Linked DNA regions of Homo sapiens. The protein of the gene in region 1 purifies or fractionates together with the protein of each later gene. This does not show direct contact. Each region holds a gene or a part of one and is shown in the gene's direction. Other genes may lie near its edges. The genes, in order: CLEC4M, CNTNAP1, ITGAM, NAPEPLD and CEACAM1.

Region 1 (4,193 bases):
GGAGGTGGAGGTCGCAGTGAGCCAAGATTGCACCACTGCATTCCAGCCTGGGCAACACAGCGAGACTCCGTCTCCAATAAATAAATAAAAATACAAAAATTAGCCAGATGTGGTGGCGCACACCTGTAGTCACAGCTACTCGGGAGGTTGAGGCAGAAGAATCACTTGAACCCAGGAGGCGGAGGTTGCAGGGAGCCCAGATCAGCCACTGCACTCCAGCCTGGGTGACAGAGCGAGACTCTGTCTCAAAAAAAAAAAAAAAAAAAGAAAGAAAGAAAGAAAGAGAAGAAATTTTGACATATGAATTCATCCATGCAGCCACTTCTCAGAAAAAAATATGGAACATTGTCAGCAGAAAATTTCCTTCTACCCCATTCTGGTCAGTTTACACCCACTCCTTCCAGAAAGCCCCCAATTTGAGTCCCATCAAAGGTTAGTTCTTCTGCCTATTCTTGAAATTCATGTAAACTCAAAATCTTACAGAATGTATTCATTCTGTTTGGGTTTCTTAACTCTTGTGAGATTCATCCAAATTGTTGTTTGTATCAGTACTTTGCTTTTTCATTACTGTATAGAATTCCACCCTCTGAATATGCCATGATATTTGTTTTCATTCACCTGCTGGTGGCCACATGGGTTGTTCCAATTTGGGTTGGGATAGTCTAACTAAAGTTACTATAAATCTTTCTATTTTGCCCTTGATGTTATTAGACCCTCTTTGGTTAACTGGGTGGAGTGTGGAGGAAAACTGCCTGGATTCGAATCTCAGCTCCACCATTTACCAGCTGTGTGACCTTGGGCTAGTTTCTTAATCTCGCAGTGCCTCTATTTTCCCCTATCTGTAAACTGGAGGTCACATGATCTACTGCAGGGTAGGAAAGTTAAATGAAGGAGTTTTATAAAGCTGTTGGAAATGTGCCTATCATAGGTATGAAATAAACAACTATCGTTCATCTCCAACTCCCAAAAACAAAGGAAATTCCCATGAATGAGAGCATCCGCAGACCAAAAGAGCAGATCCTGGAGGTCAGAGGGCATGGTGGTTCCAGGAACTAGGCGGTACTGCCTGCCCACCCCTGCCCTACGTAGGGAGGCATAACAAAGTCGCTTTCCATTAGAATGAATTGAATTTTATTAAAAGCATCCCATCGCTCAACCATGTCATGAGTGGAGGAGTCCTTCTCCCTGTCAACCCCAGACCATCCCCCAACACCTCCCTGAAATTCCTGCAAGGTCAGGCCGATCTCAGGCTCTGACTCCTTTCACTAGCCTTTCTGGTGATGTGATCTTACCCAGCTTCCTGTTTGTCTTCCTGAGAGACAGTAGATTTAGAAAGTGAGGATCAGAGGGTGGAAAATAAAAGCTGTGGTCCCCAGGAGTCCTGAACATCTGGGGACAGCGGGAAAACATGAGTGACTCCAAGGAACCAAGGGTGCAGCAGCTGGGCCTCCTGGGTAAGGCTGGGTTGGAACTCTGGGATCCTGGGTAAGGGGAAGGGATGGCCCAGGCTCTGAGCTGATGTCTGTCAATTCAGAAGAAGATCCAACAACCAGTGGCATCAGACTTTTTCCAAGAGACTTTCAATTCCAGCAGATACATGGCCACAAGAGCTCTACAGGTAGGCAAGAGTTAGGGAGCAGATAGTGGAAGACAGAGCCTCCCAGACCCCTGGGTCCTGGGGAGGTAGGTGTTGGGGTCTGGAATCCTGGGTTCTGGGGAAGGAAGGTCTGAGACCTGGGTTCCTGGGTCCTGAAGAGGACGGGGTAGGGATCTGAACTCCTCACACCTGGGGAGGTGGGGGTTGAGGCTTGGGTTCCTGGGGCCTGGGGAGGTGGGAGAGGGGTTCTGGACTCCTGGGACCTACAGAGGTGGGGGTTGGAAGCTGGACACCTGGGTCCATGGGAGGTAGGGACTGGAGCCTGGACTCCTGGAACCAGAGGAGGTGGGAGAAGGGGCCTGGATTCCTGGGTCCTGGGGCAGGTGAGAACTGGGGACTGGAATCCTGGGTCCTGGGGAGGTGGGAGCTGGGACCAGATTACTGGGTCCTGGGGAAGGTGAGAACTGGGGCCTGAATTCGTGGGTCCTGGGGAGGTAGAAGCAGGTATCTGGGTTCCTAGGACCTGGGGAGGTGGGAGCTTGGGCCTGGGTTCCTCCTGGGACCTGGAGATGTGGAGGCTGGGACCTGGATGCCTGAGTCCTGGTGTTGCAGGATAATTTAGGAATCACAGAGATCAAGGGGTTGAGGAGGATTTATTATTATTATTATTATTTAGGTGCACCAGCCCAGTCAGATTAACATCCAAAAAGACTGAGCCCCAAACAAAGAGTCAAGTTACCTTTTAAGCATTTCATGGGGTAGGGGGAGATCTGTGCAGGGGGAAGCATATTACAGAAGCGAGAAACAAAGATAGTTATTCAATTGAGACATGCATTACGTCATTTCTTATTTTTCAAGGAAAAACATGTTTTACAACTTGAGTTTATCTGCCTAGTGACCTTGCAGCTGCACAGCTAGAGAAACAGGGTCTTCACAATGCCTGGGAAAGGGAGAGATAAGGCTCACTAGCCACACACAGAAAAACAGGCAGTTAATTCTTTTTTATTTTATTTATTTAGTTTTTATTTTTATTTATTTATTTATTTTTTTTGAGACAGAGTCTTGCTCTGTCACCCAGGCTGGAATGCAGTGGCGCCATCTCGGCTCACTGCAAGATCTGCCTCCCAGGTTCATGCCATTCTCTTGCCTCACCCTCCCGAGTAGCTGGGACTACAGGCGCCCACCACCACCACGCCCGGCTAATTTTTTGTATTTTTAGTAGAGATAGGGTTTCACTGTGTTAGCCAGGATGGTCTTGATCTCCTGACCTTGTGATCTGCCTGCCTCAGCCTCCCAAAGTGCTGGGATTACAAGTGTGAGCCACCATGCCTGGCCAAAAAGGCAGTTAATTTTTAAAGGATTCCACCTCTTTCTCTTCCTCAGGGGGAATTGGGTTTTCTTACATACAACTGAGTTTTTGCTTACACATTCTTTAATTTCTTTTCATTCCTGTTCCACTGGGGAGGTGGACGCAGGTACCTGGGTTCCTGGGACCTGGGGAGGTGGGGGTTGGGACCTAAACTCCTGGGACTTGGGGAGGGAGAGGCTGGGGATGGGGTTCCTGGGTCCTGGGGAGGTTAGAGCTAGGGCCTGGATTCCCAGGTGTTGGAGTGGAGGGGGCTGGGGCTGGGGTTCCTGGGTCCTGGGGTGCTGAGGGATTAGGCCAGGCTCTCCCTGGGCCAGGCTCAGGTGGGAACACTGGCAGGCTGACGCATGTATCCTCTCTCAGGGTGTCTTGGCCATGGCGCCCTGGTGCTGCAACTCCTCTCCTTCATGCTCTTGGCTGGGGTCCTGGTGGCCATCCTTGTCCAAGGTCAGGGGCAGGTTCTGAGGGTCTGGGGTCCCCAGGCCTGGCCTTTTGGCTATGAACAGAGCCTGGAGTGGCCAGGTCTGGGAGGGAGGTGGGACTGAGAGCCAAGATGTTGTCCCTGGGGGTCTGTAGGGGCCTCTCCCACAGCCCCTCCCCACTCTAGAGCAGGACAGGAGAGGGAGGAGGAGGAGGGGAAGAACCTGGCTCTCCTTGGCCTTCTGTGCTGCCTTCTCCAGGTGTCAGTTTTCCTCATCTTCAAAGGGGATTAACTGAGACCTTGGCTCTCACAAATGATGTCTCTATGGGGCTCAGTTCAGGGCTTGGCACACAGTAGGTGTTTAATAATTGCAGTTCCTTTTCTTCTTGGCCCAGTGTCCAAGGTCCCCAGCTCCCTAAGTCAGGAACAATCCGAGCAAGACGCAATCTACCAGAACCTGACCCAGCTTAAAGCTGCAGTGGGTGAGCTCTCAGAGAAATCCAAGCTGCAGGAGATCTACCAGGAGCTGACCCAGCTGAAGGCTGCAGTGGGTGAGTTGCCAGAGAAATCCAAGCTGCAGGAGATCTACCAGGAGCTGACCCGGCTGAAGGCTGCAGTGGGTGAGTTGCCAGAGAAATCCAAGCTGCAGGAGATCTACCAGGAGCTGACCCGGCTGAAGGCTGCAGTGGGTGAGTTGCCAGAGAAATCCAAGCTGCAGGAGATCTACCAGGAGCTGACCCGGCTGAAGGCTGCAGTGGGTGAGTTGCCAGAGAAATCCAAGCTGCAGGAGATCTACCAGGAGCTGACGG
Region 2 (4,306 bases), on another chromosome or scaffold:
ATTATTATTGGAGACAGAGTCTTGCTCTGTCGCCCAGGCTGGAGTGCAGTGGCACGATCTCGGCTCACTGCAACCTCCGCCTCCGGGTTCAAGAGATTCTCCTGCCTCAGCCTCCCAAGTAGCTGGGACTACAGGCGCCCACCACCACGCCCAGCTAATTTTTGTATTTTTAGTAGAGATGGGGTTTCACCATGTTGGCCAGGATGGTCTCGAACTCCTGACCTCAGGTGATCCGCCCACCTTGGCCTCCCAAAGTACTGGGATTACAGGCCTGAGCTACCACGCCCAGCCCAAAGTTTGTATTATTAATAAATCCTACAGCTTCAGTTCCCTTTGCAGCGCCCTCTCCTGGAAGGATGCCCATATGCAGGCTTTGCCTCAGACCTGAGCCCTGGACTCCAACCTCCGTCTGGAGTGGGTTTCTGTTTCTCTTCTTTCCCTTCCATACCCACCTTCCCTGTACCTCCAATACCAGCACACTGAACCACTCATGCCAAGGGGGTCTCCAGGGTTGGGACTCAGGTTTTCAGGGCCCAGGTGGGACCCTGGACCTCTAGGTTCAACCCGCCTTTCCCCTCAGCCCTAGTCCCTGTCCCACAACCCCAGCCTCACACCACCAGCCCATTTATCTGGAGGACCCCTAGTCTGAGACAGCGCCAAGAATCCTGAATAAGCCATAGGATGGCAGAGGCCCATTGCCAGGTGGGGAATCCCATTCCTTCCCTGTCTCCTCCCTCTCTGTAACCCTTCTCCCCCTCCCTGCCCCCACTCCCACCTGCTCTGTGGCCTCCGTCCCCATCTCTGGCTACACAGGTTTCTGAGGTATAGCCACAGGGGGTAGAAGTTAAACTACTAGCGGGACAGGAAGGAAGAGGCGGGGAGAGGGGCCGAGAGGGAGGTGGGGATTAGGGTCTACGGGGTCACTTTCCCATTCCACCTCCTCCAAAAGACTTCACTCTCTTGTGCAGGATCTGGATTTTACGAAAAAAAAAAAAAGAAGAAGAAAGGAAGGAAAGAGGAAAGAAAGAAAGAAAGAAAGAAAAAAAGGAAGGAAAGAAAGAAAAAAGAATGAACGAAAGAAAGAAAAAATAATTTACTGTCTTTGTCAGTGAAGAAAGAACGGGCTTCGGAATATAATCATTTGCTGTGTGATATTGACTAAGTTTCTTGACCTCTCTGAGCCTGAGGTTTTTCATCTGCAAAGTGGAGTAGGGCAAAAATGCTAAATTCACAGTGCCCAGCACCACTCCTAGAGCATAATTTGCCTTCCGAAAATGTTAAGATTCTTTTACTTACCCTTCATTCCATTTCCAGGCACCCCTCCCCCAAACCACCTCCCTTTTCTTGAAATTTTCAGGATGCTTCTGGCCCTAGGTTCCCTGTCCTCACTCCTGTGGCCCTAGTCCCGGGCAGCCTCGGGTTACTTGGGGTTTTCCCGGTGGCGAGAGGCTCTCTACCCCCGCCCTTTCGCAGCAGGGCTGAGGCACGCGCTTGCGCGGGGTCCGGGAAACCGGCGCGTGCCAGGAGACAGAGGCTGGGGAAGGGGGGAGGTGAGAGGAAAGAGGGTGGAAAGGAGAGGATAGAGAGAGAAGAGCGGAGGACCAGGAACCAGAGAGAGAGAGAGAGAAAAGAGAGAGGAGAGACAGAGCGCTTGGGGGCGAAAGGAGAGAGGGAGGGAAGGGTGGGTAAGGAGGAGAGAGCGGTCTGCTGCAAACCCCAGGAGGAGAGCTTGGAGCCCAAGCCAGAACTCGAGCCCTAGCCGGAGCCGTTCACAGGGAGGCGGCTGCCGGGACCGTCAGCCCTGCATGATGCATCTCCGGCTCTTCTGCATCCTGCTCGCCGCGGTCTCAGGAGCCGAGGGCTGGGGCTACTGTGAGTGTTGGGCTTGGAGGCAGGTGGGGTTGGGCCCAGGAGTCCAGAGCCTGCAGGGCGGCCCCGAACCGCATTGCGGCTGGGTGGTCGCGGGTCCTTCCCGGCCGGCGCGCGCCCGCTGGCTCTCATCTTTTCCTGCCTCTCCCCCGCGCTCCGCATTGCAGCTCTGAGGCTGCCGCGCGCGCCCGGGGCTGGGGCTGGGCTCTGGGAAGAGGATGAAGTCAGCGGGCAGGGATTTGGGGTTGGGATCCAAGCAGGAGCTGGTGCCTGGGTTTGAGGCTAGGGCTGGGGGATAAGTGTATACTGGTGACCGATACTAGGATTAAGGTTTTGCCAGGGCTTAAGGCTGGACTTTGGAGCTGGCCAAGGGGTGGGGTTTGTGGCTAGGGCTGGGGTTTGTGGCTGGGGCTGGGTTTTGTGGCAGGGATCCAAGCAGGAGCTGGTGCCCCTGACTGATGCTAAGGCTGGACATGGAGCTGGTGATGGTGCTAGCACTGGCTGAGGTTGGGTGCAAGGCCTGTATTTGGGGATGGTGCAGGTTTTGGGGGCCGAGTTGGATTGAGGCTAGGGTTGGAGCTGGATTGGTGTCTTGGGTTGACTTAGGTTGTGGAAGATGCTGAGGTTTAGGATTGAGTTTGGGAAAGTACTAAACCAGGGCAGGTATTGGGCTAGCTAGGGAGGGTCTGGCCTTGGGCCTATAGGTGTAGCCTAGGGGTTTGCCTAGAAGGAGAAGGTAGCCTCCTCTGAGCATGCAGCTGTTGCTGCAGCCAGGATTGAATAGATGGCTTTAAGGTAGGGCTGGGTGTGCCTCTGGGGGCGGGGGTTGGGGGCACGGAAGGGGAAGCTTCGGTCGCTAAGTGGGCCGGCCTTTGGAAGGGTCTGGGAGGGGCCAGCGCTGACTAACAGTCGGTTTCCCTACCCTAGACGGCTGCGACGAGGAGCTGGTGGGTCCCCTGTATGCACGCTCCCTGGGCGCCTCCTCCTACTACAGTCTCCTTACTGCGCCGAGATTCGCCAGGCTGCACGGTGAGCTCCGCGGAACATCAGCTGCCAACTGGCAGCGCACCGCGGAAGGGTGGGGGCCTCCGGAGGACTTCGGGGAGAGGGATAGCCGGTTAAAGCTCCTGTCCTTTCTATAGGCATAAGCGGGTGGTCACCACGGATTGGGGATCCGAATCCCTGGCTCCAGATAGACTTAATGAAGAAGCACCGGATCCGGGCCGTGGCCACACAGGGCTCCTTTAATTCTTGGGACTGGGTCACACGTTACATGCTACTCTACGGCGACCGAGTGGACAGCTGGACACCGTTCTACCAGCGAGGGCACAACTCGGTACTCTGGGCGCCAAGGCGGTAACACTTGGGGAGCTTCCTCTGCTCCAGGCTCTGGGCCGGGCACCAGCCTCTGGGAAAATGGAGGGGGTGGTGGTGAGGGCTCGGACAAGGAGCAGTGACTCCACTCCAGGGACTCTGTCCAGAGGGACTGTCAGCTTAGGACGTGCGCGAAACACTCGGTTCACAGGGTTTAACACACTTTAGGGTAAAACCTGGGAGAGCTTCCTAAGGAGGTGACATTTGATTTCAGGTCTGAGGAAATAATAGGATTGTGGGACAGGGCACTTTATGGAAACTGTGCGGGCAAAGCCGCCAAGCAGGGAAGACCAAGGAGTGTTTACTTTCCAGAAGTCGAGATTGGCTGGGTGTGAAAGTTGTGGGCTGGGAGGCTATGGAGAAAGAAGCAGAGGGGGGCCGGGCGCAGTGGCTCACGCCTGTAATCCCAGCACTTTGGGAGGCCGAGGCAGGTGGATCACGAGGTCAGGAGTTCATGACCAGCCTGGCCAACATGGTGAAACCCCGTCTCTATGAAAAATACAAAAAAATCAGCCGGGCGTAGTGGCGGGCGCCTGTAATCCCAGCTACTTGGGAGGCTGAGGAAGAGAATTGTTTGAACCCGGGAGGCAGAGGTTGCGGTGAGCCGAGATCGTACCACCGCACTCCAGCCTGGGCGACAGAGCGAGACTCTGTCTCAAAAAATAAAATAAAAAAAAGAAGCAGAGGGCAGGACGTGGTTACTACTCTCCTCCACCCCCGCAGACCTTCTTTGGTAACGTGAACGAGTCGGCGGTGGTGCGCCATGACCTGCACTTCCACTTCACTGCGCGCTACATCCGCATCGTGCCCCTGGCCTGGAACCCACGCGGCAAGATCGGCCTGAGGCTCGGCCTCTATGGCTGCCCATACAGTAAGTGTGCAGAGAGCGCGGAGGGGGCCTGGGAGACAGCCTCCCCAGTTCCCGGCCCACCTACGGTCCTTTGCGCAGAGGCCGACATACTCTATTTCGACGGCGACGATGCCATCTCCTACCGCTTCCCGCGAGGGGTCAGCCGAAGCCTGTGGGACGTGTTCGCCTTCAGCTTCAAGACCGAGGAGAAGG
Region 3 (3,515 bases), on another chromosome or scaffold:
GTATGTGACATGCACGCACGTAGTTATCTTGTATTACCTTCGTAGCGACTCTGTGGGGCACTGTCATGATCCCCAGTTTACAGATGAAGAAACTGAGGCTCAGAGAGGTTTACAGAACAAGCTCGAGGTCTCCCACCGAGTAAGTGGGAGAGCTAGGACTGGAGACCAGGCCGTGTGGCACTGGAATGCGTATTACATGTACACTCTACTCTCTCAAACAGGAAGGGGCAGGACGCCCGGGCCTATGGCCTGCCCCGTGGGGAGGGGAGGCTGATTCTCCAGGCTGGTGGGGGAGGAAGGCCAGAGCCCTGACCCCGCCCTCCCCGGTGCAGGTCAGCAACCTGGGGCAGAGGAGCCTCCCCATCAGCCTGGTGTTCTTGGTGCCCGTCCGGCTGAACCAGACTGTCATATGGGACCGCCCCCAGGTCACCTTCTCCGAGGTGAGCGGAGCTCGGCCTGACTCCTGCACGGCCCTGCGCGTTCCTCTCACCTCTGTTAATGCTATTGGGTTTTAGAGCCGCTCCGCCCCTCTCCTGGACCCAGGCCATCTCACCTCCCGAGATGAGGCCCTGGCGCCTTCATCTCTGCCCCTTCTCAGTGCGTCTCTTTCCTCAGAACCTCTCGAGTACGTGCCACACCAAGGAGCGCTTGCCCTCTCACTCCGACTTTCTGGCTGAGCTTCGGAAGGCCCCCGTGGTGGTGAGAAGCTAAGTCAGCCCCAGGGCCACACAGAGACCCAGAGCGCTTCCCTGCTGGAACCTGTATGGTCTCTGAGCAAACGGGGAGGGGTGTTCTCTGCCTTCGGCTTCCTTACCCGTCCCCTCCCCTCCTGCGTTCCCCAGAACTGCTCCATCGCTGTCTGCCAGAGAATCCAGTGTGACATCCCGTTCTTTGGCATCCAGGAAGAATTCAATGCTACCCTCAAAGGCAACCTCTCGTTTGACTGGTACATCAAGGTGTGTGGGGTCCTGAGGCTTCGCCGGGCACAGGCGTGGTGCTCAGGGCCCAGGTGCAGTGCCCACCCGCTCTCTTCCACAGACCTCGCATAACCACCTCCTGATCGTGAGCACAGCTGAGATCTTGTTTAACGATTCCGTGTTCACCCTGCTGCCGGGACAGGGGGCGTTTGTGAGGTCCCAGGTACCTGTCTTGGGCGCTGAGGAACTATTGGAGGGAGAGGGGCTGCGCTTGTGGAGATTTCTGGGGGAGGAGAGAGAGACACAAAGAGAGAGGGAGAGAGAGAGACAGAGCGACAGAGAGACAGAGAGATACAGAGACGTAAGGAGAGAGACAGACAGAGACAGAGAGATAGAGGCAGAGGGAGAAACAGACACAGAGACAGACAAAGGAGAGAGAGATAGAGAGTCAGAGAGATAGAGATAGAGACAGAGACAGTGAGAGATGGAGATAGACAGAGAGATAGAGATAAAGAGAGAGATACAGAGCGCGACAGAGACAGAGACAGTGAGCCATGGAGATAGAGAGACAGAGAGAGGCAGAAAGCGATAGAGAGAGATAGAGGACAGAGAAACGGAGGAGGGAGAGGAGGGAGAAGAGGTGGGGGAGGAGGACTGAGGGCTGGGGTTCTGGGGGACATGAGGAGGGGTTCCCCACTTGATTCAGGGGTGCACACGGTGTGAATGGGGAACCCCCAGAAATCCAGAGTCGTCTCCCCTGACGCCCCTCCTTCCTCCCCCAGACGGAGACCAAAGTGGAGCCGTTCGAGGTCCCCAACCCCCTGCCGCTCATCGTGGGCAGCTCTGTCGGGGGACTGCTGCTCCTGGCCCTCATCACCGCCGCGCTGTACAAGGTGCTCCCCGCTGCTCCCCCACCCCCTCCCTTCATCCTCTCGGGCCTCGCGCTGCAGCTCCGTGCCTCGGTTTCCCCGGCGGGGCTGCCAGCTGTGTGACTGGGGCGAGTCTGGGAGCCTCTCTGCGCCTCAGTCTCTTAGGGAGGGTGGCCGGGTTCATGCGCGGGGCGCGCTGAGAACGAGTCGCCCTCCTTGTAGTTTCTGTTTTTCTCCAGGCCCCGACGCGGATGTCACTCCCCTCCCGCCCCGCCCTCCTGGGTCCCTTCTGTCTCTGCCGGCCCTCCCGCCCCCTCCCCCTGGTCTGCGGAGCCGCACGCTCCCTGGCTGCTGTCGCTCTCACTGCCCTCCTCTGCCCCGCAGCTCGGCTTCTTCAAGCGGCAATACAAGGACATGATGAGTGAAGGGGGTCCCCCGGGGGCCGAACCCCAGTAGCGGCTCCTTCCCGACAGAGCTGCCTCTCGGTGGCCAGCAGGACTCTGCCCAGACCACACGTAGCCCCCAGGCTGCTGGACACGTCGGACAGCGAAGTATCCCCGACAGGACGGGCTTGGGCTTCCATTTGTGTGTGTGCAAGTGTGTATGTGCGTGTGTGCAAGTGTCTGTGTGCAAGTGTGTGCACATGTGTGCGTGTGCGTGCATGTGCACTTGCACGCCCATGTGTGAGTGTGTGCAAGTATGTGAGTGTGTCCAAGTGTGTGTGCGTGTGTCCATGTGTGTGCAAGTGTGTGCATGTGTGCGAGTGTGTGCATGTGTGTGCTCAGGGGCGTGTGGCTCACGTGTGTGACTCAGATGTCTCTGGCGTGTGGGTAGGTGACGGCAGCGTAGCCTCTCCGGCAGAAGGGAACTGCCTGGGCTCCCTTGTGCGTGGGTGAAGCCGCTGCTGGGTTTTCCTCCGGGAGAGGGGACGGTCAATCCTGTGGGTGAAGACAGAGGGAAACACAGCAGCTTCTCTCCACTGAAAGAAGTGGGACTTCCCGTCGCCTGCGAGCCTGCGGCCTGCTGGAGCCTGCGCAGCTTGGATGGAGACTCCATGAGAAGCCGTGGGTGGAACCAGGAACCTCCTCCACACCAGCGCTGATGCCCAATAAAGATGCCCACTGAGGAATGATGAAGCTTCCTTTCTGGATTCATTTATTATTTCAATGTGACTTTAATTTTTTGGATGGATAAGCTTGTCTATGGTACAAAAATCACAAGGCATTCAAGTGTACAGTGAAAAGTCTCCCTTTCCAGATATTCAAGTCACCTCCTTAAAGGTAGTCAAGATTGTGTTTTGAGGTTTCCTTCAGACAGATTCCAGGCGATGTGCAAGTGTATGCACGTGTGCACACACACCACACATACACACACACAAGCTTTTTTACACAAATGGTAGCATACTTTATATTGGTCTGTATCTTGCTTTTTTTCACCAATATTTCTCAGACATCGGTTCATATTAAGACATAAATTACTTTTTCATTCTTTTATACCGCTGCATAGTATTCCATTGTGTGAGTGTACCATAATGTATTTAACCAGTCTTCTTTTGATATACTATTTTCATTCTCTTGTTATTGCATCAATGCTGAGTTAATAAATCAAATATATGTCATTTTTGCATATATGTAAGGATAATTTATAGGATATGTTCCTGGAAGTTTGGGTTCTCCCAGAAGCAAACCCAAGAATTTGGGTGAAACAAGCGTATTTAAGAGGTGGCAGG
Region 4 (2,427 bases), on another chromosome or scaffold:
ATCTTGACTCCTCTTTGCCACACAGAGCTCAACCTTCATATTCTCTGGGATCCTCTTTCATTCTGTAGACTGTGGTTTCTGTATGTGACTAGACTTTTTGAGGATAACAACCCTTCTTCAGCAAAACAATTTGCTCTAGCATTTGGTTACACACACACACACACCACAATTTGATTTCTATATTTTTCAAAAATGTTAGTAACATGTAATTCTCTAATAACATCATCTTTGGCACTGATTCCATCTAGATTGGAATTTCATATGGTGAAACCGTGATGATTTCATGCAATCCAGTGATGTTCAAAGTAAGATGGCACCAAATTTCACATACATGGTGTTGGCATGATTTCTATCCAACCAAATACCTGTTGACTTAATTCATGACTCAAAACTGTATTAGAAAATGTGATAGACCCATTTGCTAATGCTTCAATTAAAAGAAAGGGCCTAATTCTAACTAGGCATCTGTTGGTTATTTTAGTTTGAACTGTTATTTGGAAAATCTCCCAAATATATGTTTAATCTTTTTCTATTTTTCTTCTTTCTCTTTGGCCAGCATTACTTAGAGCCTCCAGTGAAGCTGAATGAAGCTCTAGAGAGATACGGACTTAACGCTGAAGATTTTTTTGTCTTGAAGCATGGAGAATCAAGATACCTAAATAATGATGATGAAAACTTTTAATAAATGTGAGCACAGGCACTTTTAATGAAAAAGGCATCATCTAAGTTTAAAAACAAATGAAAAGACTTAGAAATTCATGAATATTGTGATTATTTTACATTTGGAAACAACTTCTGCAAGTTTATGTTTTATGTTTTGTGTAATAACTTGCTTCCTAGTATGATCAGCTCATGTACACTATGAGAGGGTTCAGGGGTGGGTCATTTAAATAATGAATTGGCTAATGTGGATTTTAAATTTCATATCATGATATAAGCACTGCAATGGAAATGTTTTTACTAAAACATTATATTTTTGTGGTACTAGAATTTCCTGAGGTGAAAAACCGATATTGAAGATTCATTTTTCTTTTTTCCATTCTTCAGGACCTTCGGCAAGGTGAGTCAAGGCTCTCTACCTACCTAGATGTTTTTCAGAGGCCTACAAATACAAGTATCTTTCTTATATGCACATTCTAATAAATGATGAAATTCAGTCCAACATGCTTATTATAAACATAGCAATTCTTGCTCTATCAAATTAGCTTATATGCCAAATATTAAATATGGTTTATTTAGGTAAGCATAAAAACATAGGGGCTATCATTTTTAAAGACTTGATTTTCTCTATTGTGGTAAAATATATAAATACATATTTGCCATTTTAAACATTTACCATTTTAACCATTTTTAAGTGTACAGTTCTTTCGCATTAATGCACCCATGACCACCATTCACTTAAATTTTTAAAAGAACAGTATATTCTTTTTTTCCTAGAGCCTTCAGATGAGAGGGAACAGTATATTCTATTGCACGTCTACAATTCCCAAAAGACCTCTTACTTTGGGAGGCCAAGGTGGGTGGGTCACTTGAACCCAGGAGTTTGACATCAACCTGGGCAACATGGTGACCTCCCGTCTCTCTCGGAAAAAAAAAAAGAAAAAAGAAAAAGCCGGGTGAGGTGGTGTGTACCTGTAGTCACAGGTACTTGGGAGGCTGAGGTGGGAGGATCACTTGAGCCCAGGAGATAGAGGCTGCAGTGAGCTGTGATCGTACCACTGCACTCCAGCCTGGGCGACAAAATGAGACCCTGTCTCAAAAGAAAGCCCTCTCCTTAGCTGAGCAGAGGAAGGGAAGGAGTGTGGCTATGAGAATATGATTTATGCCATTTTCTGTTTTTAAATCTAGAAGATCTTCTAAGCACAAATACAGCTACAATGAAATATTTTACAGACAAAATGTTAATAGACCATATTCTTTGAATTAAATTTGTTTTTAATTTTCTCTACACATTTTTTTTTTCCTGGAGTCTCTTAGCTCTAAATATATCAATCAGATTTATAATTTTTTTTACCTGATTCAGATGTCTTACATTTTTATATTAAATGAACCTTAAGCATGATTCTTTTGGTAAGCCAGTATGAATGCCAGTGGTTGGGGGGCGGGGGGGGAGTCAGTTGACATAAGATTTAGTCCTAATAAGGACTCTGTATTCACTTGATTATTCTGACCCTTCCTAAGGGAGGGAGGTGGATTAGATACCACTGGAGGCCCATTCTGTATTCCTAATCCAGTCTCAGCACTTTATTCATACAAAATAATCAAAATAGGTTTTCTACACCAAATGCTACCCAGGCAGTGCTCTATAATTTATTTGCACACCTGTATGTGTGGTGCCACGTTAGCCACTAAATCTGAACTTTTACCCTGCTTTCATCATGGATTTTTTTGTGTAACCTGAAACAAGTCACCAGTGCTCACTGTGCC
Region 5 (4,003 bases), about 35 Mb from region 1:
AATCTTGACAGAAGTCCTCTGGACAACTCACGTCCTCTCCCTGGGCTCATCCTGCACCGCATGGAGCTGGGCAGCCTGGGGACCCGCAGTGAACAGGACCTGGGGTGACTTGACCTTGAAGCCTGGAGGTCAGAGCCCACATCTGCCCAGGGGTCAGGGCCAGCTCACATCATGTAGACCCTGGTCAGCATCCCTGGGGCAGCCCTTGACAAGGCTGCAGGCCTTGTCTTGCCCTCCAGGGGGAGACATTGCACACAGACAACACTCAGGAAACATTCCCCTGGTCATGAACCTGGCTTTGCTAAGGAGGTGAAGGTAGAGCCCACTTTCCATCCCTTGCTCCAAAACACCCTTCCAGGCCCTCCCATGTACCTGCTCTGTCCCTTCCTGGGTCCTCTGAGGACCCTGTTCTGTGAGGGGTCCCTGTGCAGCTCCCCATTCCCTCCTGGCACCACCTGTGGGGAAGGTGCGGTGACCACAGGACAATCAGCCTCGCAGAGGACAGAGACCACCCAGGATGGTCAGGGAGAACATGGACAGGCCTTGAGCCTCAGCTCAAGGGAGGGAGGGTCCCCCTGAAGTCTTCCCCAAGGACAGTAGAGCCCAGAGCCACCCACCTCCCTCTATCACAGTCCTCTCTTCCCAGGACACACAGGACACCTCCCCCTCCATATCCGGGAGCTGCAGCTCCACCTGAGACCCCTGGACTTGGGTCTCTGTCCCTGGGTTAGAGGCCAGGCTGGTGACACTAGAGACAGAGGGCTGGTCCCTCCCCAGTCATCCCCCAGTGAGCCCCTTTCCATCCCCCAGAGCCACCTCTGTCACCTTCCTGCTGGGTGTCTTCCTACCTTCCCAGCACACTGAAGAGCATGGGGAGACCTGGCAGCTCACTGTGTTGCAAAGAAAATAATTACCACATTTGGATATGCCAGGGTTCTCTGTGTGCTGCTGACAGACCCATAGCCAGGACACAATAGAGGTCAGTGCTGGAGAGGGGGGATCCTCCTCCCCTGATGGGGACAGAGGTCTCATCAGCCTTGATTCTCAAAGTGTGGTCTGGGAAACCAAAATGTAGACAGAAAGGAAAGAGAAAGTAAGGACAAAGGTAGGAATGAGAGGAGAGGAAACAGAGCTTCCTGGACAAACCCCGCCCCAGCACACATGATCAGACAAAGCTCTGGGCCCCAGGGAGGAGGCTCAGCACAGAGAGTGGAAAACAGCAGAGGTGACAGAGCAGCCGTGCTCGAAGCGTTCCTGGAGCCCAAGCTCTCCTCCACAGGTGAAGACAGGGCCAGCAGGAGACACCATGGGGCACCTCTCAGCCCCACTTCACAGAGTGCGTGTACCCTGGCAGGGGCTTCTGCTCACAGGTGAGGGGAGGACACCCTGGGAAGGGGCGGAAAGAGGGCGCACAGAGAATGGCTAGGGTCCTCTGGGGAGGATGGAGCTCTAAGAGGGGACAGAGGGCTTCTCTTGGAGCCAAATAGGAGAGAGGACATGAAAGGGATAGAGATCATAAAAGGAAAGTCTCAGTGATCTGAAACTGTTAGTGAATAAACAATCTCCCATTTTTTACCTTTTCCAACTGAATCATCAATGAGCAATAAATTTCAAAAACTGCTGACAATAATCACAATTTAAGTCAGCGTGACAATTAAGGAAAACATTTTAAAAGGGGCATTAAACAGAGCCCTGAGCCACCAACCTCAGATATTGGCAAATAAACCCCAGGACATGAAGAGCCCTGGGAATGCTCACTAACTCATCCACAGGAGTCTGCAGCCTATCCCAGGCACTGGGGTGCAACCAACATCACACAAATCCCTGCCCTCACGGAGCTCACGCTCTCATGGGTGGGGAAGACAGACAAGCAAAGAGATCTAGAATGTGAGGTCAGGTGTTGACAAGAGCCCTGGAGGGAACAGAGCAGAAAAAGGTCAGAAAGGGAATACCCAGGGTCTCTAGGGGAGGTGTCAGGGAAAGGATCTCCCAAGAGCACCCTGATGTGATCAAGATCTGAGGGCAGTGGGGAGGGAGCCATGCGGATCCCTGGGGAAGGGCATTCCAGAGAAATGACAAGGTCAGAGGCACTAAGGGAATGGGAGTCACACTGCTGACCTTGACCCAGTAGGACACACACACACACACACACACACACACACACACACACACACACTCCAAGGTGGAGGGGTGAAGACACCTGCTCAGGACCCAAGGCCCCATTTTTCTACCCTAATGCATAGGTCCCAATATTGACTGATGCTCTCTCCTCTCTCCTAGCCTCACTTCTAACCTTCTGGAACCCGCCCACCACTGCCCAGCTCACTACTGAATCCATGCCATTCAATGTTGCAGAGGGGAAGGAGGTTCTTCTCCTTGTCCACAATCTGCCCCAGCAACTTTTTGGCTACAGCTGGTACAAAGGGGAAAGAGTGGATGGCAACCGTCAAATTGTAGGATATGCAATAGGAACTCAACAAGCTACCCCAGGGCCCGCAAACAGCGGTCGAGAGACAATATACCCCAATGCATCCCTGCTGATCCAGAACGTCACCCAGAATGACACAGGATTCTACACCCTACAAGTCATAAAGTCAGATCTTGTGAATGAAGAAGCAACTGGACAGTTCCATGTATACCGTGAGTATTTCCCCATGACCTCTGGGTGTTGGGGGGTTAGTTCTACTTCCCACACATGGGATTGTCAGGCCTGGGCTGTGCCTGTGTCCTCCTCTGCATTATACCCCATGTTAAGGTTTGAGCATCTAGTGCAGGACACACTATGGGACAGACATCAAAATACCGAATGTCTTACTCTGGAGTCCTGATCCTGCAGACATTTGCTTCAGAGGAAGGACAATCTGATGTGGGTAACTTATCGAGGGGAGACCAGTCTCAATCTAGCCCCCCGGGACCCTCCTGGTGAACATGTCCCTAAGAAAGACCCAGTAGGACTCAGTCAGGGTCTGGCCTGAAGGGCCTTCTGGGATCCTCACAGACAAGCTCAGCCCTGGGAATCCCCTGCTCCAAAACACTATCCCAAGGTTCTCAACTCCTGGTGACCCTGAGGAGCCTGGGCCAGGGCTAGATTGTGGCCTCCTGGGCAGGGCTGACTAGGAACAAGAATTTGAGCTATCCGAGGGCTGTGGCTCCTGGAGCTGGTAACCAGCCAGGGTTCAGGCACTAGAGCCTCATTTGGGCAAGGATGGAGCCTCATCCTTCACCTTAGTCTCAGCCTGGAGAGGACAGATGGACAAGCTCCCCAGGCCATCAGCCAACTGCCCTGGGGGCTTAGGAGATGCCATAGGAAGTTTACCATCCCCAGGAGGAGGAACAGAGGAGACAGGATGCTCCTGAAAGCTCCTTGTCCACCAGGGATCAGGCTGAGAGGCACTCTCAGGGAATCCAACAACAATAGATGCTGCGGCCGGGAGCGGTGGCTCACGCCTGTAATCCCAGTACTTTGGGAGGCCGAGGTGGATGGACTATGAGGTCAGGAGTTCAAGACCAGCCTGACCAACATGGTGAAATGCCGTCTCTACTAAAAATACAAAAAAATTAGCCGGGCATGGTGGTGCGTGCCTGTAATCCCAGCTACTCAGGAGGCTGAGGCAGGAGAATTGCTTGAACCTGGGAGGCAGAGGTTGCAGTGAGCCAAGATCACACCACTGCACCCTAGCCTGGGTGACAGAGCGAGACTCCATCTCAAAAAAATAAAATAAAATAAGATTGTTTATTTGGGCAGCTCCCCTATGCAGAGCTGAGGTCAAATAATTATAAATATTTTAAGGTTAATTCACAGACCACAAGATAAGCCAAAACCATTAACCATTTATACTATTTCACTGAGGGGAAACTGAGCCACATGGCAATAAATACAGTCACTATATCAAGGTCACACAGACCGTAACTGGAAGATCAGTTACAGGAGATTTGTCTTCAGCCACAGTCTTAACCTCTCCTCTACTCCAGGGGCCTTATTTGGCATCTGTGGACCCCAATA

The links.
Region 2: the proteins of CLEC4M (region 1) and CNTNAP1 purify together in Homo sapiens (affinity purification with mass spectrometry; one large-scale study listed by BioGRID and IntAct). This does not show direct contact.
Region 3: the proteins of CLEC4M (region 1) and ITGAM purify together in Homo sapiens (co-immunoprecipitation; one study listed by IntAct). This does not show direct contact.
Region 4: the proteins of CLEC4M (region 1) and NAPEPLD purify together in Homo sapiens (affinity purification with mass spectrometry; one large-scale study listed by BioGRID and IntAct). This does not show direct contact.
Region 5: the proteins of CLEC4M (region 1) and CEACAM1 purify together in Homo sapiens (co-immunoprecipitation; one study listed by IntAct). This does not show direct contact.

What each region holds. Positions count from the first base shown.
Region 1 is NC_000019.10:7,761,859-7,766,051, forward strand, and holds the start of CLEC4M (C-type lectin domain family 4 member M), read left to right. Parts: upstream 1-1,384; 5' UTR 1,385-1,408; coding exon 1,409-1,454; intron 1,455-1,534; coding exon 1,535-1,618; intron 1,619-3,326; coding exon 3,327-3,410; intron 3,411-3,779; coding exon 3,780-4,193.
Region 2 is NC_000017.11:42,681,025-42,685,330, forward strand, and holds the start of CNTNAP1 (contactin-associated protein 1 precursor), read left to right. Parts: upstream 1-1,506; 5' UTR 1,507-1,805; coding exon 1,806-1,872; intron 1,873-2,796; coding exon 2,797-2,898; intron 2,899-3,011; coding exon 3,012-3,205; intron 3,206-3,966; coding exon 3,967-4,114; intron 4,115-4,192; coding exon 4,193-4,306. Other genes in the region: CCR10 (C-C chemokine receptor type 10), read right to left, coding at 776-799. UniProt on the Homo sapiens protein: Required, with CNTNAP2, for radial and longitudinal organization of myelinated axons. Plays a role in the formation of functional distinct domains critical for saltatory conduction of nerve impulses in myelinated nerve fibers.
Region 3 is NC_000016.10:31,329,466-31,332,980, forward strand, and holds the end of ITGAM (integrin alpha-M isoform 2 precursor), read left to right. Parts: intron 1-332; coding exon 333-440; intron 441-615; coding exon 616-699; intron 700-842; coding exon 843-956; intron 957-1,038; coding exon 1,039-1,140; intron 1,141-1,699; coding exon 1,700-1,810; intron 1,811-2,170; coding exon 2,171-2,242; 3' UTR 2,243-3,412; downstream 3,413-3,515.
Region 4 is NC_000007.14:103,101,684-103,104,110, reverse strand, and holds part of NAPEPLD (N-acyl-phosphatidylethanolamine-hydrolyzing phospholipase D), read left to right. Parts: intron 1-556; coding exon 557-682; 3' UTR 683-2,427. UniProt on the Homo sapiens protein: D-type phospholipase that hydrolyzes N-acyl-phosphatidylethanolamines (NAPEs) to produce bioactive N-acylethanolamines/fatty acid ethanolamides (NAEs/FAEs) and phosphatidic acid.
Region 5 is NC_000019.10:42,525,678-42,529,680, reverse strand, and holds the start of CEACAM1 (cell adhesion molecule CEACAM1 isoform 1 precursor), read left to right. Parts: upstream 1-1,199; 5' UTR 1,200-1,306; coding exon 1,307-1,370; intron 1,371-2,280; coding exon 2,281-2,640; intron 2,641-3,811; exon of another isoform or gene 3,812-4,003.